2 separate regions of the Homo sapiens genome follow, and region 1 is linked to region 2. The links come from fine-mapping of genetic effects on gene expression. A gene starts in region 2. The other region holds a variant in brackets. All regions are shown on one strand. Distances are between the middles of the regions.

What was found.
Region 1: its variant is fine-mapped to the expression of NQO2 in thyroid (GTEx, PIP 0.93).

Annotation. Positions count from the first base shown.
Region 1 is chr6:3,022,657-3,036,089 of GRCh38, reverse strand. LOC101927759 (a long non-coding RNA gene) reads right to left here and starts at 12,027. Exons shown (of 3, transcript NR_152848.1): 1 at 11,917-12,027; 2 at 9,219-9,337; 3 at 8,656-9,145. It also overlaps the pseudogene HTATSF1P2. RefSeq lists enhancers at 8,973-9,132, 10,101-10,210, 11,654-12,853 and a silencer at 10,321-10,615. The variant C/AC (reference allele first, on the strand shown) is at 7,590.
Region 2 is chr6:2,992,383-3,008,010 of GRCh38, reverse strand. NQO2 (N-ribosyldihydronicotinamide:quinone dehydrogenase 2) reads right to left here and starts at 8,117. Exons shown (of 7, transcript NM_000904.6): 1 at 7,926-8,117; 2 at 1,452-1,543. The coding sequence starts at 1,458. It overlaps NQO2-AS1 (NQO2 antisense RNA 1), which reads left to right and starts at 8,336. Exons shown (of 2, transcript NR_186367.1): 1 at 8,336-8,620. RefSeq lists silencers at 8,119-8,368, 13,914-14,098.

The sequences.
Region 1 (13,433 bases), 29 kb before region 2:
TGACCCATGGGTCACTTATAAGTATGTTTAATTTCCAAGTGTTTGGTGTTTTTTCTATTGTCTTCCTTTTATTGATTTATAGTTTAATTCTATTATGGTAATAACATATTTTGTATGATTCCAATTTTTCCAAATTTGTTAAGCTGCAGGGTATGATCTATCTTGGTGAATGTTCCAGGTGTGCTTGAAAAGAATGTGTTTTCTGTCATTGTTGGATGGAGCGTAATATACATGTTCATTGGATCTAGTTGATTAATGATTGTGTTAGCCTGTTTTGCATTGTTATAAAGGAATACCTGAGGCTGGGTAATTTATAAAGAAAAGATGTTTATGTGGCTCATGGTTCTGCAGGCTGTACAGGCACAACACCAGCATCTGCTTGGCTTCTGGGGAGGCCTCAGGAAGCTTCTAATCATGGCATAAGGCAAGACGAGCCAGCTTATCACATGGTGAGAGAGGGAGAGAGAGAGATAGAAGGGAGGAGGTGTCAGGCTCTTTTAAACAATCAGCTGTCATGTGAACTGGATAATAGATAAGCTGTTTCAACTAGATAATAGAGTGAGAACTCACTCATCACCAAGGGAACGGCACCAAGCCATGCATGAGGGATCTGCCCCCACGTCCCAAACACCTCCCACTAGGCCTGTCTCCAACATTGGAGGTCACGTTTTAACATGAGATTCGTAGGGGACACACATCCCAACCATACCAGTGATGGAATGTCATCTCCTTGATGATTTTCCATCTCTAGTTCTCTGTATTGCTGAGATAAATGGTTTCTAATGAGAAATCTGCAGCCATTTGAATTGTTGTTCCCCTATGGGTAATATATATATTTTTTCTTTGCCTGCTTTCAAGAGTTTTTCTTTATCCTTATTTTCATGTGTTTTGCTATGATATATCTGGATGTGTATTTCTGTCAGTTTATGTTGTTTGGAGTTTGAGATTGTATTTTGGTTATTGTATTTTTCAGTTGTAAAATTTCCATTTGCTTCTTTTTGTTTTTTTATTTTCGAGACAGTATAACTGTGACACTCAGGCTGGAGCGCAGTGACGTGATCCCAGCTCACTGCAGCCTTGTACTTCTGGGCTCAAGCAATCCTCCTGCTTCAGCCTCCTAAGTAGCTATGAATACAAGCACGTGCCACCACACCCACCTAATTTTTTTTTTATTTTTCGTAGAGATGGGTTCTCACTATGTTACCTAGGCTGGTCTCGAACTCCTGGTCTCAAGTGATCCTCCCACCTTGGTCTCCCAAAGTGCTAGGATTAGATGCGTGAGCTATCGTGCCTGGCCTGTTTCTTTTTTATATCTTCGATTTCTTTACTGAGACTTTCTCCTTTCTCCTGGTTTCTAGAATATTTGTAATGGATCATTGGAGGGTATTTTTGGTTTTGTTTTTGTTTTTTCTGTTTTTTTTTTTTTTAATGATGGAATTTCATTGTCTCATAGATCTGGCCAGAAGTCTGAAGTCAAGATGTCGACAAGACTGGTTCCCTTTGGAGACTGTGAGGGTAGATCTGTTCCATACCTCTCTCCTGGTTCCTAGTGGGCGTAGGTAATCATCGGTGCCCTTGGCTTGCAGCAGCCTCACTATAGTCTCTGCCTCCAGCCTCACATGGCCTTCCCCTCGGAGGCTTCTCTGGGTCTCAAATCTCTCTCTGCTTTCTCTTATAACAACACAGCTACTGGGTTTAGGGTCCACCCTAGATTCAGGATTGTCTCATCTTGAGATCCTTAACTTACTTATGCCTGCAAAGACCTTGTTTCCAAATACGATCACATTCTCAGGTACCAAAGGTTAAGTCTTGCACATGCCTTTTGAGGGGGATACAATTCATCCCACTACAGGGAATAATTTACATATGATAAAATTCAACAATTTTAAGTGGCCAGGCATGGTGGCTCTCCCCTGTAATCCCAGCACTTTGAGAGGCCAAGGCAGAAGGATCGCTTGAGCCCAGGAGTTTTAAGACCAGCCTGAGCAACACAGAGAGACCAGATCCCACTTCCACAAAAAATAAAAAATAATATTTGCCAGGCGTGATGGTGCATGCCTGTAGTCCCAGCTGTTCAGAGAAATCTCTCACCCTATTTCCACCATGTGAGATACAACGAGCAGTTGGCAGCATGTAGTCTGGAAGAGGGCCCTCACCAGGACCGGACTGTGTTGGCACCCTGATCTTGGACTTTCACCATCCAGAACTGTAAGAAATTAATTTCTGTTGTTGATAAGCCACCAGTCTATGGTATTTTGTTATAGCAGCTAGAACTGACTAGGACACTCTATTAAGAAATCTATACTTGACATTCGGAAAATATTGAGAAAGGCAAATACGACCAATGCAAAATTTGGAGACAAATGAAGTTGTTTCTTTCTTTTTTTTAAACTAGAGACTGGGTCTCACTGTGTTGCCCAGGTGGGTTTTGAACTCCTGGGCTAAAGCAATCCTCCTGCCTTGGCCTCCCAAAGTGCTACGATTAGAAGTGTGTGCCACCACACCTGGCCAAGGTTGTTATATTCTAGTAATGATGAAAATGCATCTCAAGCGCATAAGCTTGGGAGGTACCTCCTGAGTAGTGACTGAGGGCATTCATTTGTCTGCACTTGAACTATGGGTGTATGTTTATATTTTGGAAATGTTAAGGAGTACCATTAGTTCCTTTCTCTAAACCCCTATTCCTGGCCCTTGTTATGCCGTTCAATATGTGGTCATAGTGGGACAGTTTCTTAAGAAGAAAGAAAGGGAATCCTTAAAGAAGAGACTAAGACATTAATTAATCCAGTAACTCACAAGCGATGTCTTTCCTTGTGGCCCTTGGCTCAAAGTCCATGGCATGTAAATCAGACACAGTGACTGTGCAGCCCTGCCTGCTCAGTTCACCCACACCCATGTTCTTCAAGGATGCACGTAGATGATGACCACTTTCTTACCTAAGTCACGAGCAGTGAAAGAACCTCATGGGGAAAAAATTCCTCTTAGTCATAATTCAAGGAAGAAGAAAACCATTAGCAAATGCATCACTGTAGTCAAAGCTGAAAAGTAAGACTTTTAGTACATACTCTTAAAATGGTGATCATTTTACACTATTTTAAGGGATAACTTATAAGGTTTACTTTCGTCTAATTTTACAATACACAGTCTTGGAAAATAAGATGGAATAAATCTATGCCCTCTCCAAATGAAATAACTAAACTTTATGAAAAGTCTGATATAATGTGGCTATTCTAGGTGAGAGGTTTTAGCCTTGTCCTTCTGAGAATAATAATAGTTCATGCTGCATGTTGAATTCACCAGGGCACTGACTTTTGCTCTTAGCCATGGTCCTACCCTGACAAATATCAATCTGATCATAAGAATGTTTAGGTTTTCTTCTCCTCCAAGCACAAGGGAATTTGATACCTAATACAAAGCAGAAAGAATGGCCAAAGATCCTGGGAGCCTGAGACCCATCCTCTTTGGGTGGTGATACAGGTAATGGGGAGAAATCTGGCAGTGGCAATGTCTCACGGCTTCGATTATGTGGGCACCTCACCCACCCCTAGTGTGGCGCATTCTCATTTCAGAAATCCCTATAAGACTTCTCGTCTTTCTGGAAGACAAATGGGCAAATAGCTTCTGTGCCAGAGAGAGATGCATGAAAGGCAAAACGCTGAAGTGTGAGCCAGGGAAACTGTGATTATAATGATACAGCCTGGATTTGGAACCGTCTGTTCAGGCCCTTCAAAAGAAAAAATATTGTACATAATGGTAAAATCACTGGTTTCAGTTCATCCTACCAAGAATAGGAGTTGAGAATTAAGCAATGTTATTGTTAAAGTTTTTAATCCTGATCCCCAAAGCCCATGTTTCATGACTTCTAAAAGTAGCTTAATTTTTTCTCCTGAGAATTTAATTTATGGCTCCAATCTGAATATGGCAAAAAGGAGAAGCCCCTGATAGATCGGCCAGCAACCACCTCTCTAGGAGCCAGCGTCAGTGGGGCGGGTCTGTGAGGTTGTCCCAGGGCCCTGCTGCCACCTGCAGCCTGTGCAGCTCAAGGGCATATTCGTGACAGCCAGCCCGACATCAAGTGCACCTGGCATCCTCTGCTGCACAGGAGTGGGAAATCCTGGGAGGTCGAGGCTGCAGTGAGCCATGATCGTGCCACTGCACTCCAGCCTGGGCGAGAGTGAAACCCTGCCTCAAAACAAAAACAAAATCCAGTTCATCTCATCGGTCCCTAAATGCCCTTAATAGCCGCCCTTCCACCCTTAATAGCACAAGAATGCTGAGTGTTTTCTTTCAAACCTTGAGAGGTGAGATAATAGCAAAGTCTGATTTATCCTCTAGCATGGGGGCTTTGACCCTGCCATTCTGGGGTCACTGTTGAGTTTACATCCTGCACAGGCTCATGGACATGTGTCCACTAGGGTGGACATGCCCTTGAGTGTTCAGGGCTCACACTCCCAAGGAGACCTCCGTGTGGACTCTGAAGGTGCCATTGACTCAGCTATTGTCCCCAAAGCAACATGCCCTGCCTCGGTGGTAGGCCTCAAGAAGTTTTGGTGTTGGCGGGGGAACAAGTGGTGTTTTGTTTTGAGACAGGTTCTTGTTCTATCACCCAGGCTGGAGTGCAGTAGTGTGATCATGGCTCACAGCAGCCTCAACCTTCTGGGCTCAAGTGATCCTCCCACCTCAGCCTCTCGAGTAGCTGGGACCACAGGCATGTACTACTATGCTCAGCTAACTTTAAAAAAAATACTTTGTAGAGATAGGGTCTCACTATGGTGCCCAGGCTAGTTTCCAACTCCTGGGCTCAAGCAATTCCCCTACCTCAGCCTCCCAAAGTGGTAGGATTACAAGTGTGAGCCACTGTGCCTGGCCAAGAGGATTTTTAACACAATATGCATCCAGATTTATTTTATATTACTCTTTCTTATCACAAACTATTTCACATGTATAAAAGTAAACTGTATAGAAATTGACTTATACATGACAGTGAAATGAATACTTGAGTTCTCACCATTTAGCTGAAGACACAGATCATTAAAAATACCTTCAAACACCTGTGTGCCCCCTCCCATCACATTACTATCCTGAATATTTAATTATGCTTTTCCACATGAATTTGGCAGGTGATTTTTTATTTGGTATGTTTTTATACTTGGACTGAGTGATATCTATAACCTGTATTTTTCACTCAACTTTATAATTATGAAATATACACATCTTGATGTGTGGACCTGTAGTTAATTATTTGCTAATTGGTTAGTATAGTGAGATGTGTAAATGCTCAATTTTACAGTGAATTTTTGAACGATGTACTAATGGACACTACCCACCAGCAGAGTATGAATTCAACTGTTGACCCACAGTTTCACTAACACCTGGTATTGTCTACATTGCTGGGTGCAGTGATTTTTTTATACCTATGAGATCAATTTTGTTCAAAAATTTTTTTAGAGGGAGTTTCGCTCTTGTTGCCCAGGCTGGAGTGCAATGGCGCGATCTCGGCTCACTGAAACCTCTGCCTCCCAGGTTCAAACAATTCTCCTGCCTCAGTCTCCTGAGTAGCTGGGATTACAGGCATGCACCACCACGCCAGGCTAATTTTGTATTTTCAGTAGAGATGGGGTTTCTCCATGTTGGTCAGGCTGGTCTCGAACTCCCAACCTCAGGTGATCCGCCCACCTTAGCCTCCCAAAGTGATGGGATTACAGGCGTAAGCCACGCGCCTGGCCAATATTTATTATTTTAATGGCATCTGTTTGACTACCACTTACTAAGAGATGTGTCCTGACGTCTCCCACTCTGATAGTGGATTTTTCCATTTCTTTTCATAATTCAGTGTTTGCTTTATATACTTCGAAGCTGTTTATTAGACACATACCAAGTTTGGAATTGGTGTAACTTCATATTGAATTGATGGGTTCATCATTACACAGAGACCTTCTTTATTCCTAATCATGATTTTTGCTCTAATGTCTATTTTTGCTTGATATTCATACAACGATCCTACCTGCTTTTGAGTATTTGCATGGTAAATCTTTTTCCGTCCTTTTACCCTTAACATTTTGTGTTGATGGCTTAGATATATCTCCTGTAAACTGAAGGTAGCTAAATTTAAGCTTTTTATCTAGCTAGACTCTTTTAACTGACATTTTTTTCTATTTACCTTTTTTATGATTACAGGTATATTAGGATTTTTTTTCCACCATTGTATTTTGCACCTCAATTTGTCCTTCTTTTACTGTTGACTTTTTTCCTCCACTCTTATCTTCTTTTGGATGATAGCGTTTTTTCTTATTCCATTTTCCCCCTCTACTAATTTGACCTCAATTTCTATTATTTTAATACTTATCCTAGAAACTTGAATATACATATATCACTTAAAAATCTAAATCATTAGCTTTATCCCCCTCCCTGAAAAAAGAACTGTTTTTATTTGGATTATACCCTCTATATATTATTTTTGCCCAGGATTATAATTTTATCTGCTTTTTAACCCTATAAATTAGGCTATATTGTTATTTATTTACTTTTGAGACATGGTCTCATTCTGTCACCCAGGCTGGAGTACAGTGCAATCATAGCTCACCGCAGCCTTTAACTCCTGGGCTCAAGGGATCCTCCCACCTCACCCTTCCGAGTAGATGGGACTACAGGCGAGCACTGTCACACACAGCTAATTATTTTTATTTTTTGTAGAGATGAGGTCTTGCTGTGTTGCCCACACTGGTCTCAAACTTCTGTTCTCAAGCCATCCTCCCACTTTGGCTTTCCAAAATGCTGGGATCACAGGTGTAAGCCACCGTGCCTGGCCGCTAATCTATGTTTAATTTACTCAGTCTTTCATGTATTTTAATTCTAAACGTTCTTTTGTGTTTCAAATCTGGTCACTTTTGAATGTCTTTCTTTAAACATTTTATACATGATTATTTTGTGTTACATATCCCGTAATGCCAATATTTGAAGACTGTGGGTGATTAAATCTATTGCTTGTTGTTTTTATTTCCAATCATGTTTTGTTTCCTCATGTGTTTGATAATTCTGGAGAGCATATATTACACTCATCTTAATCAATGGGAATCTTAATAGCCATGAGATCATGGTTTTCTCCAGAGAGAATTTATGTTTACTTAAATTACTTACTATACTTAAGGTTTTTATCACTTGGGATCATTTTGTATTTTGCTGACTGCTGGTTGTGGATACAATAAATTCCAAATCCAAACTCTATGGAACAGGAGTTTATTTTTCTACCGAGAAGGAAAAAGGCTGCCTGCCAGTCTCCCTGTAAGGGTGAACGTACTTTTCTACCCACTTTGGAGCTCCTCCACAAAGTCTTGATTCAGCTGCCCACATGGTGTGTCCCGAATTGGTGGGTTCTGAATTGGTGGGTTCTTGGTCTGATTTCAAAAACCCAGCTGCAGACCCTTAGGGTGGGTGTGACAGTTAAGTTTTTTTTTTGGTGGGTTTGCAGTCTCGCTGGCTGAGGCAGAAAGTGAAAGCTGCAGGCCTTTGTGACGACTGTTACAACTCATAAACGCAGTGTAGACCAGAAAAGAGTACAACAGCAAAAGCTATTACAATAAGCAAAAAAA[C/AC]AAAACCGTCACAGCATGGAAACAAATCCGACTTCGTTGCTATTGCTGGCTAGGGCAGCCTGCTTTTATACTCTTATCTGGCCCCACCCACATCCTGCTGATTGGTAGAGCCAAGTGGTCTGTTTTGACAGGGTGCTGATTGGTGCGTTTACAATCCCTGAGCTAGACATAAAGGTTCTCCAAGGCCCCACCAGAATAGCTAGATACAGAGTGTGGATTGGTGCATTCACAAACCCTGAGCTAGACACAGGGTGCTGATTGGTGTGTTTACAAACTTTGAGGTAGATACAGAGTGCCAATTGGTGTGTTTACAATCCCTGAGCTAGACATAAAGGTTCTCCACGTCCCCACCACACTCAGGAGCCCAGCTGGCTTCACCCAGGTGGAGCTGCCTGCCAGTCCCGCGCCCTGTGCCTGCACTTCTCAGCCCTTGGGTGGTTGATGGGACTGGGCGCCTGGAGCAGGAGGCGGCGCTCTTGGGGGAGGCTTGGGCTGCCCAGTAGCTCACGGAGAGTGGGGGAGGCTCAGGCATGGCGGGCTGCAGGTCCCGAGCCCTGCCCCGCGGGAAGGCAGCTAAAGCCCGGCGAGAAATCGAGCGCAGCGCCCGTGGGCTGGCACTGCTGGGGGACCCAGTACATCCTCCGCAGCCGCTGGCCCGGGTGCTAAGCCCTTATTGCCCGGGGCCGACAGGGCCGCCCGGCTGCTCTGAGTGCGGGGCCCGCCAAGCCCACGCCCACCCGGAACTCCAGCTGCCCCGCAAGCGTCGCGCGCAGCCCCGGTTCCCGCTCGCGCCTCTCTCTGCACACCTCCCTGCAAGCTGAGGGAGCCGGCTCCGGCCTTGGCCAGCCCAGAAAGGGGCTCCCACAGTGCAGCGGCGGGCTGAAGGGCTCCTCAAGTGCCGCCGAAGTGGGAGCCCAGGCAGAGCAGGCGCCGAGAGCGAACGAGGGCTGTGAGGACTGCCAGCACGCGGTCACCTCTCAATGGCACAGCCCCCAGGCCTGGTCTTGCTCCCTTTTGCTTGGTTATTAGTATTTGATGCCAACGCAGCCTAAGGTTCCACTCTCGCTTGCCAATCCACTGTCAGCAACTTGTTTATTGTGGTGGTGGTGGTTGTGGGGTGAGGGGTTGGGGATATGCTTGGGCATTTTCCTTCATTTTTATGATCTTAGTAACACATTTAAAAGTGCACTTGCTGTGATTTACTTGGCATCTAGAAGTGTTGCTGCAGGAGAGCTTTTCAGATGTCTTGTCTGCCACAGAACAGGAAGTGAAAGTCTCTGCATGGTTTTTGACCTCACCCAGACACGACACAAGAATCTCTGACCCACAAAACATGAGATCCTTGTTGAGCCGGGGACCCCGCCTTAGGTTTCTGGTGTCGCTTCTTAAAAATGGCCTTTGTTCAGTGCTGCTTCAATTCCCCGAAGGGTTCCTTCCAGCAGTGGAGCAGAGCACAAGCTTTGGAAAAGGCCGCCTGGTTTTTAGTTTGCGTGCTGCCTCTTGTAGGGGTGGAGCCTGGTCAAGTGACTTGAGCTCTGTAAGTTTCGGTTCACCATCTGTAACATGAAGATAACAAAACCTTCTTACAGATTGTCAGCTCAGGCTGCGAGACATCAACAGAGGACATACCTTCCATCCATGATTCAAGAGTTCAGATGACACACACTTGGATTCTGGGCAGCTTTACTCTCAATACATTCTCATCAAACACATCACTGGCTGCATCGACGTTCCAGCGCATCAGCCCACTTTATGGGAAGAAAGAAATGGGGAGAGATGAGCAGAAATCAGACTTCTTAGCAGACACAACCCGAGGCAGGGTCAGCACCTGGGCCGTCAGGATCCCAGACAGGATTTCAAGCTCCTCCTGGGATTCTAGTGGGGAAGGTTTCTCCTGACAGGACTGAGGACACACTGGCACCTTGCGTATCAGCTGGGGCAGCTATGGAAGCTAGACTCCCTTTCTTTCATAGATGGGGAAAGTGAGGCCCGAAGAGGTGGGGGAGCTTGTTCAGGGGTACTCAGCTGCTGGCAGAGCTGGGCCTGGATGCAGGACTGCATCAGCCTCTTCTGCCTCTGTCACTTCCCCACAAGGGCAGATTCTTTCTCACCTTTTCCTCCTCCTTCTTTGTGTATACACTTAACCTGCTTCATGAGGAGATATGCTACTTTAAATTTTGTTATAATTTTTATATACCTCTATGAATGTTTTTAGATTATGGTCATCAGATTCCAAAATTAATTTATGTTTTGTCTTCACTGGAGTACTGCATATTCCCATGTAGATAGTCACCATGCTTGCAGCATTATTTAGGATTCTTTGATTGTAACTGCTGTACACTCAACTCACAGCATTAAGCAAAAAAGGCAACATCTTGCCTCACATAACTGAAGAGCTGAAGAGGAAAAGCTCCAGTTCAGGCAGGGGTGGATGCAGGAGTTCACAGCGTGTCACTAGGAAGTTGTCTCTCTGTGTGGCTTGGCTGCACCGTCCTCTGCCTGGGCTGCATTTGTAGGCCAACGCTGTCTATGTGTTGGCCCCTGACCCACTTACTTCATCACAGCTCCAAGTCCAGAAACAAGAAAGGTCTCTCTTTCCTGATAGGTCCAATGAACCCCTGAGTTCAGTCTCACTCCCTGGGGTGGTTACAGCTAGGCCACGGAACACTGTGATCAGTCAGGGCTGTGAACTGCCACTCCTGGGGTCGGAGGAGGGGCTACCCTTATGAACACCACATAGCTTGGTTGAAAGGGCATGGTTCCCCCACCACACACAAAAAAACAAGGTGTTACAATCAGAAAAAATGGGAATAGATATGGGACAGGCAAAGATGACTCTTCACAGCATCTGCCATGCAGCGGCTCAGAGTGCTTTGTCACTACCCCAATCACAGGCACTTTGGTTGCTTCCAGAGAGGAACCAGACGCCCTGGGTTCAAACCACATCTGCCCCTCTACAGCTATGACCCTTGGGCAGATGTCTTTTTTTTTTTTTTTTTTTGAGATGGAGTCTCGCTCTGTGGCCAGGCTGGAGTGCAATGGCACGATCTCACCTCACTGCAACCTCCACCTCCCGGGTTCAAGTGATTCTCCTGCCTCAGCCTCCCAAGTAGCTGGGACTATAGGCATATGCCACCACACCCGGCCAATTTTTGTATTTTTTAGTAGAGACGGGGTTTCACCATGTTGGCCAGGCTGGTCGTGAACTCCTGACCTCAGGTGATCCTCCCACCTCGGCCTCCTTTTAAAGTGCTAGGATTACAGGATGGAATAACACTTTCCTTTAAGGGCCAACGAAATCACTTGAGCATGCATCCATCAGAGGGAGGGCGGCTTAGGAGAGGTTCCCACACGGTGCCCACTGCTGAACTGTTCATTAGCTAGCTTTTTCCTGCATCCCCATCTTATCGCCATTTTCTGGGGCTCGGTTTTTCCGTCTTGAGAAAGAAATAGGCCTGTGCTTATTTCCCTCTCCCCTGGGACAAGGCACCAGCCACTCTCCTGAGCTGCTGGGAACTTCTCCAAAATTCCTGGTGCTTCCTCACATTGAGCAACATGAGTCTCTTTCCTCTTTTTACCAGGCTCCACCCACGAGAGGCTCTGAGACAAACTACACAACCAAAGAAGTCTTTCTGCATCCACAAAGCCCTGTTTGCCTAAGAAAAAGGTCGCGGGGCCCAATCACACACACCTGGCTGCAGTCATTTCCAATTTTCTTTTTTTTTTTTTAATGGCAATTCCTGCTGCCCTGCTGATACTGAATTTATTTTTTATTTTAAGTTTTTCAGCAATAAGATCTTAAAAACCGGCCGGGCGCGGTGGCTCATGCCTGTAATCCCAGCACTTTGGGAAGCCAAGGCAGGCAGATCACCTGAGGTCGGGTGAGTTCAGCCTGACCAACATGGAGAAACCCTGTCTCTACTAAAAATACAAAATTAGCCGGGCATGGTGGCGCATGCCTGTAATTCCAGCTACTCGGGAGGCTGAGGCAGGAGAATCGCTTGAACCAGGGAGGTGGAAGTCGAGGTGAGCCGAGATCGCGCCATTGCACTCCAGCCTGGGCAACAAGAGTGAAACTCCGTCTCAAAAAAAAATTCTTAAAAACCGGCAGAAAATGTATCAGGGTGCCCGGTACTAACAGGAGATGAGACATAGGCAAGAGCCCAGCCCTCGAATTGCTAACAGTTTTGCTTGGGAACCGGAATTAATGTCTTCAGCATACTCAGGCCAAGGTGACAGCACCGGCTCTCAGAGAGGTTGGATTTCAGCAACTTCCCATCCTCTCAACCCACACAGGAACAGGCCCCTCGGCAGTTCGAGAACGCACCTTCCCATACTTCAGAGTTGCCGGAGGGAGGGTGGAGGACCTCCTGCCTCACAGTGATCTGAGGTCCAGAAACCCTAGGGACCCCAGCTTGAGGCTCTGAAGGGCTGTGACACAGCCTCTTTGCCTGCCAGCCCCGCCCCGGATGCAGCCTGCTGAGCGAGGGTGGAGGAGGGGAGCTATGTGGCCAAAACCCTGAGTCACTGAGGAGCACGAGGGAGCCGCCCTTTCCGGCGTGTCTCCCGAGGCTGTCTGCCCTTCCCCAGCCTCTGCAGCCTACAATCCCAATCAAGAGCCAGCCCGGTTTCTGCAAGCACACAGGAGCAGAAGAGAAACCAGTGAAGACTTCACCGCTGCATATCAGGCCAGCGACGGCTGCTCGGTGACGGCGCTGCTCTGCCACCAAGAAAAACCCCAAACCCACTGATCCCACAAAGAGGGGAGAAAAAGGAAGGCTTCATGCTGAAGAAGGAGAAATACAAACGTGTATGTGCCGGTTTGCCTCTGGTCGTTACCGTGGAGGCATTCACACGCCTGTCCATTTGGCATTATTATGAGCGATCCCCAGACAGAAGAACTTAAGGTCAAGTTTTACAGAGATAACCAAGGACATCTTAAAGGAGACAGGCTGTGCGATCATTGGAAGAGGGAAGCTGTGGATCTTGCATTCATGCATTTGGATGAAGATGACACTGGAAACTGCACGTTGCAGGTTGAGGTGGCCAAGTATCAACGGAATGGGAAATATGAGGCTTCAGGAAGGAAGTGCGCGAACCACAGGAAGGCTCCGTCTCTACGGCAGAAGCGGCCACGCCGCAGCCCATCCAAACGCCGCGACACGAGTGAGTTGTCCTCATCGAACACATTTCATCCTGTGGATTTTGAGGATGGCCAGAGAAGACCTTCAAGGAGAGTCAAGTTTGGACCAACTCGGAGGCTCATTGTCTTTGACAGACACCCAGCTGGTGAACCTGTGTCCTGGAGGAATGCAGGAGCAGCTGCTCATTGTATTCAAACCTTTGATGGAAGGTGGTTTGAATGATAATGGTTGAACAGACTCCAAGGCTGAGAGGACGGGCGGGCGGCTTCCTTCAGTGTCCCTGAGGCCAACACACTCAGTGCTCCGATTCCACAGAGGGGGACTTTGGGTGGTGCTGGGGGCGTTGAGGAAGAAGGGCCCCTGGGCACAGCCAGCAGTGCTGTCCTCAGTAGTGATGACAAGGAGGAGGAGGAAAAGGGAAAAGAGGAGGATATGATGACAAAGATGATATTTAATCCCTCAAACTTGCTTTTAGGGAAGTTCCTCCATCTGCATGTGGCTGTGTGTCAGGGTGATTATTAGTAGGGTTACGTGAACACGGCACAGTGGTACAATGCCATCAGACTAAATTTTTTAAAAGTTTTAAATTTTCATTGTAACTGGCAATTAATGATTTTTAAATTATTTTTATTTATTTATTTGTTTTTTGAGACAGGTCTCATTCCGTCACCCAAGGCTGGAGTGCAGTGGTGTGATCTCA
Region 2 (15,628 bases):
CTAAATCTTTTAAAAGCCCAACCTAATTTGGTTATCCTCTGTAAGAAGGTTTAGACCAGCTCCCTAACACCAAAATAAAGAACTGCTGGAATTAGTCTTCCATGCTAACCCTACATTTGCAGATATCAGCTACAGGCACCTTTCAGTGTGGCACAGTTCTGCTTCCATCTCCCCCAGTCCATCAAATCTGACACTTAAACAAAACATGAGGAATCAGACCCGCTGGTCTCATGGGAAGGCAGGGCCACATGGAGCCCATCTTTCAGTGGTGATGCTGATAACAAAGAGGACTCTAGGAAGAGTCAGGCCCTCCTGGCACTGGCAGTATCGTTCACACCAGGGGCTTCTGAAGCAGTATTTTCCTCATTGGAAAGAGTCTCCAGGCTTATATACTGACTTCGTCTGGGAGGCAGCCTGGTGATTTGCTTAATTAAATTTACCCTGGTCACCTTTAAGAAGATGTTAAACTCTTGATTTAAATTTTTCATAATGACACTTTAAGGAAAAGATACACGTATCAGTTTGAAGCAATGGGTTTCAGGGCATTGAGCTGGCTACAAAGGTTGAATTCCATAAGTTAGATTCATGGTTAACATTTTAATTTTACTTTCTCAGACTCTTGTTTCAATAAAGGAACTATACTTAGGGGCTTAACAGGAGAATAGATGCAAATGAAATACCTACACCAATGGTTCTCAACTGGGGCAGTGTTGTGCCTGCTAGGGGACGTTTCTCAATGCCTGGAGACATTTTGGTTTGTCACAGCCGGTGGGGGAGGGGTGCTACTGGCATCTGGTGGGCAGAGGCCAGGGATGGTGCTAGGTGCTAAACAGGGTGCACAGGATGACCCCCCAAAACATAGGATTATCTGGCCCAGAATGTCAGTGGTGCCAAGGGCGAAAATCCGAATCTACACCATAATGTATAGAGTAAGGTGAACCTGTGCGTTCTAACACGAAAGGCTCTCCATGTTATATCGTTAGGTGAAATTAAAAAGTTGAGAGATTGCATGTTCATGTATATGTGCATGATAAGCAGTTGCAAAAGCAAAGATAGAATCGTACTGAATTTTTACCCAAGATGCCTCCTGGGGTTCATTCACTTGAGCCCCTGCTACAGCCCAGGGAGAATTTCAGGGCCTGGAGGCACAGCAAAGACAGGATAGGCAGGGCCCCACTTTTGAGGAACCTAAATTCTGGAGGGAGTCGAAAGGAACAATGAAACAAGTGAGAACATAGAAAACAAGATAATTCCAGATAGTTTATACACTTCCACGTGGCTTGGATTTTTTACAACAATGTATCCAATTTCTGATTAAGAGTCTAACTCCCACCTGGAAGGTCAATGTGGGAGGGTCACTTGAGCTCAGGAGTTTGAGACCAGCCTGGGCAATACAACAAAATCCCATCTCAAAAAAAAAAAAGTCTTACTCCACAATAGTGAATCATTACCTGCCATAGCGTAAGAAGGTGGATTCCTTCTCTCTGATTTGATGGGTGGCTGGGGCTTTCCTGCGTAGTCTCTCTTCAGCGAGTCCAGCAATCTGGAAGACAAAACGAACCCAGAGGGGGTGGGGAGAGGCATAGGTGAGGTCGAATGTACCACATCTAGGCATCACTGCTGCTTCCTGACAGACACGCAAACACATCAGAGAAAGACCTCTCAAGAGAGGCCAGGAATCTTCTGGAGATTTAGGCCTCAGAGGACAAGCCACGCAGGATGTCAAAACCCATACTTTTTTCCTTTTTTGAGAGGACTCTGAACCTTCCATCCAGACAGTCATACAGCAAAGGACCCAGGAAATGAGCCACGGTAGGAAGCAGGAGTTGAGCCTCCTTGGCCTTCCTGCCTTCCCCAGTTTTCCCCGTAGATCGAGCAGAAGGCTGGGGGATCAGTGAACCGCCACACCACCAATGGGTGCGTGCACTCCTCGGCTGGTGCCAGACTCTGGTGGGCCAGCACTGGCAGTTGTCGGCCCTTCCCCTCACTTGAAAATAATGGGAGTTGGCTTAGACCCAGGCTCTAACCAGAAGTCTCAGAGATTCTCCAGGGATGCAGCGGAGGCCAGAGGAGCAGAGGAGACCCCCGCATCAGACAGACTTGGTGCAATTTCCAGCTCTGCCCATTGTAGCTGTGGGCCCTGCAGCACATCCCTCCACCCCTCTGTGCCTCAACCTCCTCATCAACAAAGTCACAGCATGGCCCAGAAGAGTGAGAGAGAGACAGTTGCTATGTGCGGTGGCTGGCACACAATGGGGCTCTGGAAAAACGTGAGTTCTCCCCAGGGGAGCCTTTGGCCTCACCCCCTCCTGGCCATCTCTGAAATTCTGGCTTCCTTCTGGGAGATACAAGGAGACTCCAACAAACCCACTCTCCCTACCATAAAAAAACAGCTCAGATAAAACTTAACAACAACAAAGCAAACAACTCAATGCAAAAATGGGCAGAAGGCTTGTGTAGGCTTTTCTCCAAAGATGTATGAATGGTCAGTAAGCCATGAAAAGATGCTTAGCATCACTAATCATTAGGGAAATGCAAATCAAAACCACAATGAGATCCCATATCACACGCATTAGAATGGCTACTACTACCAAAAAACAAAACACACGTAGGTGAGGATGCGGAGAAGTTGGAACCCCGTGCACCGCTGGGGAAAGGTCGAGTGCTGCCGCTGCTGGAGAGGTGCTGTGCCCCCAAAAATTACAATTAGAAAAATGAGAATTAACATATGACTCAGCAATTCCATTCGTTACTCTGAACCCAAAAAACTGAAAGCAGGGTCTTGAAAACCACTTGCCCACCCATGTTCAAAGCAGCATTTTCCACAACAGCTAAAACATGGAAGCAACCCAAGTGTCTATCAGTACATGAATGAAAACAGCCAGAAAATTCTACCCTTAAAAGTGGCTAAAATGAGGTCAGGCACCGTGGCTCACACCTGTAATCCCAGCACTTTGGGAGGCTGAGGCAGGTGGATTACCTGAGGTCAGGAGTCCGAGACCAGCCTGGCCAACATGGCGAAACTCCGTCTCTACTAAAAATACAAAAATTAGCCGGGCGTGGTGGTGTGCACCTGTAATCCCAGCTACTCGGGAGGCTGAGACAGAGCGAGACTCTGTCCAAAAACACAAAAAACAAACAAACAAAAAAAGTGGTTAAAATGGTCAATTTTATGTGAGATGTTCTGTACCACAGTAGGAAAAAATGGGATAAAAAAACAATGCAGAGAGTGTGACTAGGGCTTAGTGTGAAGACACGCATCGCGCATGTTGTGTCCAAACGACAACGTGAACCTATCAGTGTGTCTTTACAGCAAAACAAAAAGCACAGAGACACACAAAAGTGGTGCTTATCCCCACCAGGACTGGAATCTTGAGCAGGGCCTGAATGAGCATCTTCCAGGGCCCACTCCTTATCTCCAGCTGTCCAGGAGCACAGGCACAGGGCTGGGGTCTGCAGAATACTGCAAGAAGTGAGGTGGGTGCTGAGGAGTGGGCTCCACCCAGGCCAGGTGCCCTGTGGATGGAAAGGAAAAGAGGCTACATCATTGTGGCTGAAGCTGAGTTGGGGGCAGGCATGGGACTTAACAGAGTGGGGCACTGTCACTCCCCAAGAGGGCAGACAGCTCTGATCACTCCAAACACCCAAAGGTGACTTCAAATCCTTCCCCATTCGCTTGACTTCACTGGACAGCTGGGAACCTGCATCTTTAGTGACTGAATATCCCCACTCTGGTTCCCCAAGGACAGACCCTGAATTGATTCCAGGAATCCACGTGTACAGGTAAGCACTACATTTCCTAGGCTGCCTTGCAGTTGAGATGGCCAGTGAGGTGTCAGCAGAAGTCACAGGCGGGGCTTCCAAGAAATACCCTCAAGAAGCGAACTCAGCTGGGGCTGGGAGGTGTGGGAGCTAGCTCCCTCTGGCTTTGTCGCTGGCTCTCTTCCCAGCTGGACTGTGGGATGATGTTAGGGCTCAGTCAGCCTTCTTGTCGTCCTGGGGATGGAGGCTATGCACCAAGGGCAGGGAGCAGAAATACCAAAGGAACCTGGATTCCCGGGGCTCTCTTGGGGCTGCAAGATGGTGGTGGATTGGCAACTGCAGATATTTGTGTTTATGTATTTTCCATGCAGAAACATCTACAATGGCACTGAGTCTGTAGCGAGGGCCATGCACTGTCTGTCTGAAAGTGCTCCAGGCACAGGCTTTGTGTCCAAGTACCTTGCTGTGTTTAAGGTACATCACAGCACCGGAGAATGTGGGAGAGGTCACATTCATCCCTTCAAAGCGCAGGGAGGTTCCTATTCTGACACCAGCAACACTTACAAGAATGAACCTAAAGCTGGGCAGTGAGGAAGGAAAGGAAAAAGAAAGTTTATGAATACAGGTAGTATTGTTTGAACCGGTAAGTTGCACTATAAATCACAATAAAAGATAGTCTGTATATCACTAAAACAGAAGAGTTGGCCGCCCTGAGGATGAGGCCTTTGGGTCTCCAGGCATTTGCCAGCTCTCCTAGCCTAGGGGCAGGGGCGCCTGCACAGCCCTCTGCTTTTCCTAGAATTCTCAGCAGCGAGCATGTGTCAGGGAGAGACATGGTTGTCTTAGCACTGAGGCTGAAATCCTGGATGTTCTTGGGAGGGCAGTGATTGTGAAGAACAAGTTACTTGTCTAGTTCCTGGGGGTCACTCCTCAAAGCCTCCCGATGAGGCAAGTTTACAGGATCCATGCTCCCTGAGCCAGCAGTGACACCCACACTTGGCAGTGAGAAGTGGGGCTGTAACTTACAGGGTGAGCCAAAATGGCGGGTCTGGAAAGGGATTATCTTAAAGGAAAAAGAGAGGAGAGTGAGTGACTTCATCATTAGCTGGGAGGCTCTACAGTGCCCTGGTGGACAGTCACTGCCTGGAGGTGACTTTGTAGAAAGCAAACTTTGGCTATCACAATGCATAGGGAGGCCTGGCAAAGCCCAGGGAAGCAGAAGGCCCAGCACTTTGAGAGGCTGAGGCAGGAGATCACTTGAGCCTAGGAATTTGAGACCAGCCCGGGCAACATAGTGAGATCCCATCTCTACCAAAGATTTTTAAAAATTAGCCAGGTGTGGTGGTGCATGCCTGTAATCCCAGCTACTCAGGGGGCTGAGATTAGAGGATTGCTCCACTCCAGACTGGGTGACAGAGTTAGGCTCTGTTTCAAGAAAAAAGAGAAAGTAAAAGAAAAAAAAGAAAGCCTGTTTGGCTGAACTGTGGTTCAAAAAAAAAAAGAGTGGATGGTGGTAGATGCAGTCAGGGAGGTGGGAGGGGTCTGACCTGACCCCTCCTAGGGTAGGGGTGAGGATTTTATTCTAAGCCTGACAGAAAGCCCTTGGAGCCTCTTAAGCTGGAGAGTAATATGGAATGATCGCCAGTTGTGGTGGCTCACACCTGTAATCCCAGCATTTTGGGGGGCCGAGGTGGGGGGATCACCTGAGGTCAGGAGTTTGAAACCAGCCTGGTCAATGTGGCAAAACACCATCTCTACTAAAAAATACAAAAATTATCCGGGTATGGTGGCATGTGCCTGTAGTCCCAGCTACTTGGGAGGCTGAGGCAGGAGAATCACTTGAACCTGGGAGGTGGAGGTTGCAGTGAGTCAAGATTGTGCCATTGCACTCCAGCCTGGGCAACAGAGCAAGACTCTGTCTCAAAAAAGAAAAAGAAAATAGAGTGATATGAAATGATTTACCTTTGTAAATGTTGCCAGTGTTTCTGCAGACTGGGGGAACACCTTATCCTGATTCCCAAAGTGATTGCCCGAAATCATGTTGTTTGTATGAAATGCTTCATTTTCACTCCTCTAGACAGGGCATCCATTCTTCAGTGTCCCCAGCTCACCACTCCCTTTTGTATTCCTTGGCCCAGTTTACATGTTTACATCATATGGCTGGTGGCATGTGAGTTTGTGACTTCTGTCTCCATCCCCCTAGCGGTTAAGAATAAGAATCTGAGGTCCAAGAGCTGAGTGACTAACTCAGCTCTATTTGAGTGACTCAGCTCTATTTTCTATACTATTTGAAATAGTGGGGAAAGACTCCAACACAGGCTCTTGACTTGCAGTTGTGTCACTGTTCACTTGACCCCAGGCACTTCCCTTGGCACCCCATCCACAGCAGTGACAGTTCTCTCCCTTTTTAGAAACTATGCACCTACCCAGGCCTACAGGAAAAAAGAGCCATGTGGTTATTAAACTGTATATACCAGGTCAAGTGGGCTCTGATATTTTTGACGTGTACATTATTTAATTTTAAGAAGTTATTTTATAATGTTTTCACTTTTTTTCCTGTGCCTCTTTCCATGTGGACAGTCCCCGTGCTGGGCATTCTAACAGACAACATCTCACAGTGTATTCAGTGTGTATTCATGCGGCAGCTAAACCATTGCCTGCATACCCTTTTGTGCCCATTTTCCTATTTCTGGGACCTTAGGTTATTTCCATTTTTTTCCCAAAACTATAAACAGCACAGCTAGAAGTATATATTATTTAATACTTGTTCCTTTTCATGTATTTCTTTGGCTGTGATCTTCGGAGATTAAAGGTTAAACTGATTTATTTTTTCAGAGATTAAAGGTTAAAGAAGCTGATTTTTGGCCGGGCGCAGTGGTTCATTAATCCCAGCACTCTGGGAGGCCGAGGCAGGCGGATCACCTGAGGTCAGGAGTTTGAGACCAGCCTGACTAATATGGTGAAACTCCATTTCTACTAAAAATACCAAAAATTAGCTGGGTGTAGTGGCACGCACCTGTAATCCCAGCTACTCGGGAGACTGAGGCAGGAGAATAGCTTGAACCCGGGAGGCAGAGGTTGCAGTGAGCTGAGATTGTGCCATTGCACTCCAGCTTGGGCAATAAGAGTGAAACTCCATCTCAAAAAAAAAAAAAAAAGAAAAAGAAAGGAAGAAGAATGAGTTCAAGACCAGCCTGGCCAATATGGTGAAACTCCCACCTGTACTAAAAATACAAAAATTAGCCGGGCATGGTGGCAGGCGCCTGTAATCCCAGCTACTCAAGGGGCTGAGGGGGGAGAATCGCTTGAACCTGGAAGGCAGAGGTTGCAGTGAGCTGAGATTGCCCCACTGCACTCCAGCCTGGGCAACAGAGTGAGACTCTTCTAAAAAAAAAAGAAAAAAGAAAAAGAGGGCCGGGAGCAGTGGCTCACGCCTGCAATCCCAGCACTTTGGGAGGCCCAGGCGGGCGGATCACGAGGTCAGGAGTTTGAGACCAGCCTGACCAACATGAAACCCGTCTCTACTAAACATACAAAAAATTAGCCAGGCGTGGTGGCACGCCCCTATAATCCCAGGTACTCGGGAGGCTGAGGCAGGAGAATTGCTTGAACCCGGGAGGCGGAGGTTGCAGTGAGCCGAAATCGTGCCACTGCACTCCAGCCTGGGCGACAGAGTGAGACTCCGTCTCGGGGAAAAAAAAAAAAGCTGATTTTTTTTTTTCCCAGAGAGATTATAGGTTAGAGAAGCTGATTTTTCATTTTTTCCACAGTGCCACAATGTCCTTGACAAAGGCAGCGCAAACCAGTGGTTCAGCCGCGCCTTCAGGGCAGCGCTGGGCAGCGCACGGGCCTAAACCCCGGTACCCCCTTTACAGACTGACCTTGGGCCCGCTGATTCCTACTTGTAATATGACTATGATACCAGCACCCGCTCCATAGGGTTGAGGGCAGATTCCACCAGACGATTCGACACCGGGACCCTGCGTGTGGGCGCGTTCCGTGAGAGCCAAGCACGATCCTATGTACAGAATGGTCCCTGGCCCGGGCGCGACGACCCACAGGGCCATATGGCCGGCCAGCTGAAATCCCTGAGAGCGTTCTGGCCGTCCAGTCCGGGAACTGTCCTTCCCAAGTCCCCCGGTCCCCGACAGGGGATCACTCACCTTCCGACCAGCGCACTCCCCAGTAGGAGCCGCAGGACTGGGACCCGCGTCTCCCCAAGGACCGCTCTAGGAGTTGCGCCAGGTTCCGGCCGCACTGGACCGCGCACTCGCTGACGCCTGGAGGGCGGGAGCGCTGCGACTGCGCCCCCGGGGACCACGGACCGGTGCCAACCTAAGCAGCCCGGAACCTGCCCCGCGCCGCGGGACTGCAGGCCTCTTTACGCAGCGCGCCTACCACGCCGAGGCCCCGCCCACTCACCCGCCCCGCCCGTGAGCCCCGCCCACACCCCGCCCCGCCCCCGAGCCCCGCCCACTCCCCGCCCCGGCGGTGCGGTGCCTCGCTCCGCGCCCGTCCGCGCCCAGGCCCCGCCTCCACAGCGGCGTCCCGCCCCACCCACACCTCGCCTCGGCCCCTAAGCTCCGCCCACTCCCCGCCCCTGAGGTCCATCTGGGGCCTCGCCCGGCGATCTGGGACTGGGGAGGACCCTGCTGACTTCCAGGCAGGTGGAAACTGGATTGATAGAAATCCAGCGCGGGGAGGCTGTGCTGAGAGGAGGGACGCCCCTGCCCTGCGCCTCCCGCTCCCCATCTCTGGCTGGTATCCCGGTTACAGAATGAGGGTCCGTGGTGCAACAGAAAGAATGAGCCACTGATACACTCATCAGCTTGCTCGGATCTCCCGGGGAGTTACGCTGGTGAGAGAAACCAGTCCCAAAGGTCACTCACCGACGGCGCCGCTGGTGTACTGGTATTATGCAAGATGCCCTCGCAAAGGTCACGCACGGATGGTTCATTTATCCAAAGACCAAAGGAGAGAAATGCAGGACTCATTAGCAGTGCCCAGGAGATAGGGGGGCGGGTGGGTGTGGCTATAAAAACGCAACCCGGGGGGTGCCTGTGAAGGAAATCTGCGTCCCGCGGAACGCAACACGCTGTTGGGATACTGGATTGTCCTTTGTGAGATGCCACTATCGGGGGAAACCGGATGGCTTCACAGAAAAAGTTCGTTTAAAGGAAAATGGTTTAAGGCCAAGGAAATACCTAGAAAACGGAAAGTCTTGAAACCAGAGCCGGTGGGGAGTTATGGGGGGCGGTGCTGGTGAACAGTTTGGGCCGACTTTTTCCAGCGCTTGCTGGCTTCTGCCACCTCATTTGGCAGTCACCTGCCACTGTGACCTCCCCAAGTCCCTTCTCCAAACTCAATTCCTTGATTTCTGGTGTCCCGGGATGGCCCCACTCCAACAATAGAGCAGAAGGAAGGAAGGTTTCCCCTGTGTTTAGAACGTTCCTAACGAAAATAACTGCAACTCTTGATTGTACCTCCTGAGGGTCGTTGGGACTTTCCCTCTCAGACATTTATTGGTTCATTCATTCGTTCATTTTGCTGTAACTCACAGTGGCCCTCCCCATCCTAAGGTGCACTGCTGGGATTGGTCTATGTGCTGATGATGTTCTCCTTGTCTTCAGAGGTGAGAATGTGCCCTCCCTCCGAGATGCCCTCTTGCCCCTGAGCTCCCCAGCAGGGAATAGGCTGCCTTGTCTTGTGAGTCCAGATCCTGGGAACAACTTTCATTTAGGAATGGAACAGCAGGTCCTGGGAGCATTGGCGCCTGCGCGCCCATCATGCGCGTGTGTGATGCAACATCACCACCTTGTGGCAGCGAGGAGCTATCACAACGTGGACTGAGCAAGTTGCTCCCTGCTTGGGGTTGGGAGCTGGACTGGCCTAGTTCCCTGGGTCTTTTGTAACCTGAATGGTGGTAGATTCCAGGACAGTTCAGTAGGAGCCCATCCTCAAAAGGAAAATAACAGAACTTCCTGCTAATCTGGTATTGGGGCTGAGCAATTACTGCACACTAATGAGATTGACCATAATTGCATCCTGAGTTTGAGGAGGAGGTCATGCTACTAAAATGAGATAAAATCAGCTCCAACGACAAACATCATCTCTGGGGGTTTCCAGATTCTCACTTTTCATTTAATCCCCAGCCTTAGTGGAAAGCAAGAGTCGGAGTCGGCATTCTGGGCAGGGAGGCAGGTGAGGCAGGTACACATCTCCTCTTCTCCCCAACGCCCCATGTTTCTATTTCTGAATAAAATGAACCATCATGGTGCTAAGGTAAAGCTAAACTAGCTGAGCCACCTCCTGAAGAGGTCATTGCTTTTGTTTTTATTTAATGAGATTTCTTTCCCTTCTGCTACCAGCATCCCTATTCCTTTGGAAAACTGCTTCTTCATAATAACATAAAGGTTTTGGATTTTTTGTTTTGTTTTTTGGGTAGCAAAATCTGTATAACATGAAATTTTCTATTTTCACCATTTTAAGTGTACAATTCAGTGGCATAAATTACCTTTAGAGTGCTGTGCAACCATTACAACTATTTATTTTCAAAACGTTTTCATCATCCCAAATAGAAACACTTGGGTCAGGGGCCATAGATCACGCCTGTAATCCCAGCACTTTGGGAGGCAGAGGCATGCAGATCACCTGAGGTCAAAAGTTTGAGACCAGCCTGGCCAACATGGCGAAACCCCATCTCTACAAAAATTTGCCAGGTGGTGTACACCTGTAATCCCAGCTACTCAGAGGCTGAGGCAGGAGAATTGCTTGAACCCAGGAGGCGGAGGCTGCAGTGAGCTGAGATCGTGGCACTGCACTCCAGCCTGGATGACAGAGCGAGACCCTGTCTCAAACAAAAACAAAAACAAATAGAAACACTGCACTCATTGGATAATAAATCCCCATTCTCCCCTCCTTCCACTCCTGGTAGCCTCTAATCTACTTTCTGTCTCCATGAATTTGTCTATTGCATGTATTTCATATAAGTGGAATCCTACAAGATGTGGCCTTTTCACTAAGCTTTTTTTCCTCAAAAACCTTGTTGCTGAGTTTCATCCATGTTGTAGTATGCATCAGAACTTCATTCCTTTTTATGGCCGAATAATAGAAAAATGTGTATACCGCCTGGCCAACGTGGGGAAACCCCATCTCTACTAAAAACACAAAAATTAGCTGGGCATGGTGGTGTGCACCTGTAGTCCCAGCTACTCGGGAGGCTGAGGCAGGAGAATCACTTGAACCCAGGAGGCAGAGGTGGCGGTGAGCTGAGATTGTGTCATTGCACTCAAGCCTGGGCAACAAGAGCAAGACTGACAGAAAGAAAAGAAAGAAGAAAGAGAGAAAGAAAAAGAAAGGAAGGAAGGAAGGAAGGAAGGAAGGAAGGAAGGAAGGAAGGAAGGAAGGAAGGAAGGAAGGGTACCAGGCATTGTTTATCCACTCATCTGTTGTTTGACTATTGTGAATAATATTGCAATGATTATTGGTGTACAAGTATCTGTTTCAGTCCCTGTGTTCAATAATTTTGGTTATACACCTTGGAGTGGAATTGTCGGTATTACAATTCTATGGTCATTCTATGTTTAGCTTTCTGAGGAACAGCCAAACTGTTTTCCACAGCGTCTACACCATTTCACATTTTCACCAACAATGTACACAGGTTCCAACTTCTCTACATTCTCACGCACATTTGTTATGTTTCTTTTTTTTCCCTCTAAATTATAGCCATCCTAGCAAGTGCGAAGTGGTATCTCATTGTGGTTTTGATTTGCATTTCCCTAAGGACTAATGACTTTGAGCATCTTTTCATGTGCTTACTGGCCATTTGTATACCTTCCTTGGAGAAATGTCTATTCAAGTCCTTTGTTGACCATTTAATTGGGTTGTTTGTCTATTTGTTGTTGAGTTGTAGGTTTTTTGTTTGTTTTTTGAGACGGAGTTTTGCTCTTGTTGCCCAGGCTGGAGTGCAATGGCGAGATCTCGGCTCACCGCAACCTCCGCCTCCTGGGTTCAAGTGATTCTTATGCCTCAGCCTCCCGAGTAGCTGGGATTACGGGAATACGCCACCACGCCTGGCTAATTTTATATTTTTAGTAGAGACAGGGTTTCTCCATGTTGGTCAGCCTGGTCTCAAACTCCCGACCTTAGGTGATCCGCCCACGTCGGCCTCCCAAAGTGCTGGGATTACAGGCGTGAGCCACCGCACCCGGCCGAGTTGTAGGTGTTCTTTACATATTCTGGATGTTATCAGACATAGGATTTACAAATATTTTCTCCCATTCTGTAGGTTGTCTTTCACTTTCTTGAAAATGTCCTTTGATATAAAAGTTTCACATTTTTTATGAACTCCAATTTACCTATTTTTTGTTGTTTCTTCCTGGGCTTTTAGTGTCTTATCTAAGAACCCAAAACACAAGATCATGAAGATTTACTCTTACGTTTTCCTCTATATGGCTTTAGTTCTTATATTTAGGTTGTGAATTATTTTTCACATATGGTGTGAAGTGGAGCCCAACTTTAGTCTTGCATGTGGAAATCCATTTCTCTCACAGCATATATTAAAGAAACTATTATTTCATCATTGAATGGACTTGGCACTCTTGTCAAAAATTCACTGGCCACAGATGTATGGATTTATTGAGGATCCCTTGTACATCTCTTGCAGCTTTTAAGATTCTCCCTTAGTCTTATACAGGCATATCTGCCTTATTCTGCTTCTCTTTATAGTACTTCCACAGATGTTGCATTTTTTTTTTTTTTACAAATTGAAGGTCTGTGGCAATCCTGTGTCAAGGAAGTCTATGTTTATGTGATCAATATTATTATCAATTATTGTATTGTGATTCCTCAGAAAGGTTACATAATCTATTGACACCTCTAGCATGGGATAGTGACACATATAACAGATACTGACACTCTGTCCATCACTGAACTGTGTGTGGATTGATCAAAGCAATCTTTGAGTGAGTCTAGTTTCCCCTCTGGTAGGACCTACTTAGACGGAGATAAAATATTTTCTCACCGCTTACATTAATCTAGATTTAGATATAGTTGTCCTCCTGTATTTGTGTGTTCCATATCTGCTGATTCAACCAACCTCCAATGGAATATATTTGAAAGAAAAAGCAATACAACAATAAAAAAATACAAATAAAAATACAGTGTAACAACTATTTATATAGCATTTACATTGTATTAGGTACTATATGTAATCTAGAGATTATTTACAGTATATGGGAGGCTGTGCAAAGGTTATGTGTCAATACTATGCCATTTTATATCAGGGATTTGAGCATCTGTGGATTTTGATATATTTGAGGGGTCCTGGTCCCAGTCCTCCATGAATACCCAGGATTGACTATATATTTTTGGATGTTAAATCACCTTGCAGAACTTGAAAAAAAAGTTATCAAGTAAACAATCTCCAGGTGAAATAGTCCATATCAGTACCGTCTTTCAAGTATTAGTTGTTTATCAGTCAGATTACTATTAAGGCTGACATAACTTTGATCAGACCAAGTTTCTGAACAGTTCATATCCCTAAACTGAACATTAGTTCCTCGTTCTCATGCAACACATAGCCCGTTTTTCTTTGCACATTGTCTGATTTTCATATGTGCTTGACACTTAATAATTTTAAGTTCCTATGGCTTTACTAGTGCGTAGGAAAGATTTTCAACTGTATCATAGGACTTGTGAAAATGGAAAGAATGGAAAATGTAAGACGAAGTGTAGACACTAAAATCTTAGACTCAACACCCTTATATCATATGGCCTTCTTCTAAGGAGTGTAGGTTCCTGTCTTAGTCTGTTTTGTGTTGCTATAAAGGAATACCTGAGGCTGAGTAATTTATAAAGATAAAAGGTTTATTTGGCTAATGACTCTGAATGGTTGGAAAGTTCAAGGTTGGGCATCTGCATCTGGTGAGGGCCTCAGGCTGCCTCTACTCATGGAGGAAGGTGAAGGAGAACTGGAGTGTGCAGAGATTACATGGCAAGAGAGTAAGCAAGAGAGAAAGGAGGGAGGTCAAGGATTGTTTCTAACCACCAGCTCTGGAAGAACTCACTCACCCCTGAGGGAGGGCATTCATCTATTCATAAGGATCTGGCCCTGCAACCTAAACACCACCCATTAAGCCCCACTCCAACATTGGTGATCACATTTCAACTTGAGGTCAGGCTTGGCGGTGCTCACCTGTAGTCCCAGCTACTCCAGAGGCTTAGGTGGGAGGATTGCTTGAGCCCAGGAGTTCAAGGCTACGGTGAGTCACAAACACACCACAGCACTCCAGCCTGGGTAACAGAGCGAGGCCCTTATCTATGAAAACAAGAAAAAAGATGAAACAAATTTCAACATGAGGTTTGGAAGGAACAAACATCTAAATCACACAGTAGTTCCTGACCTGAAGCTATTGTCACATTATTGATGTGTATAATTTAGAAATATGTCATTAATAGCCAATACTCAGATCTAGAAAACTAGTGGACAAAGCGAGTGCTTTAAAACCAAAGTGGCATTTAAAAAAAAATCAAACCTACTGGTTTTCCTACTAAGTAAGTCTTGAAATAATGCACTATAGAGATCCTGTCTTATCTATACAGCTAGAGAGAATAACAAATTTTACTTTTATCAGTTAAATAAATTTTGTCTTAATATGACTTATTATTTATATTTATCTTTTTACATTTCAAAAACACTATGTTATTCAATTGAATGACTTATAATTTTTGAGTTACCTGGTCACTGTATTATCATTGTCAGTTATTATATTTCACATGCATTACTTAGTAAAGACAAATCTTGGGGCCGGGCACGGTGGCTCACACCTATAATCCCAGCACTTTGGGAGGCCAAGGCGGGCGGATCACGAGGTCAGGAGATCGAGACCATCTTGGCTAACATGGTGAAACCCTGTCTCTACTAAAAATACAAAAAATTAGCCGGGCGTGGTTGCAGGTGCCTGTAGTCCCAGCTATTCGGGAGGCTGAGGCAGGAGAATGGCCTGAACCCGGGAGGCGGAGCTTGCAGTGAGCAGAGATCGTGCCACTGCACTCCAGCCTGGACGACAGAGCGAGACTCCGTCCCAAAAAAAAAAAAAAAAAAGAAAAATCTTTACCAAGGCCTGATTTCTTGAGCATATTGATATAATATATAGTTAAACATGTTATTGATAGACAAGATGTTTCTCAAGAATATTATGTTTGTGCAGAAATTACCACATAAAATTAAATCCTTCTTTTCGGCTGACTATTTTTTAAAAACTTAGGCTGATATTAATGAAAAAACTGAAACCCAAATGAAGCCTGGAGTTAATAGTAATGTACAACGTTGGGACCTTAGTTTCCACAAATGTATCTGTTTTACTTTAAGATCTTCAAGATGCGGAGCACCCCTACAACGATTAGGAGAGACACAGGCTAGAAATAGTTTATTACTTACAGATCCTGGGGCACATGGCATACTTGGAGGCCACCTTCATGGAAATCAGGGAGTGCAGGCAGAGAGACCAAGACAGCAACCCATGGGCCAACACCTTTATTGGGTCCAGGGTGTTATCCAAACAGGTTTCCCATGGGGAGTTTTATTCGGTGGGTTTACAGCAAGCAGGCATGAGTTCCAGGAGGTGGCACAGTGACTGAGTGGTGGGCCCTGTGGCGCATCTGCACATTCTAGGTGGGGTGTGAGGGTCAGTGTGGCCAATAGGTTCTAGCTGTGCCATAGAGAAGTGGTCAACAGGAGATAGTTGTATGAGGCAGATATCTGGATCCACCACATAACAGAACTGGGAGAAGGTGGAGAACCAGCAACTTTGTCCGGGGTGACTGAGCCTTGATTTTGGTGTGGGAAAGTCCAATGTATATTCAA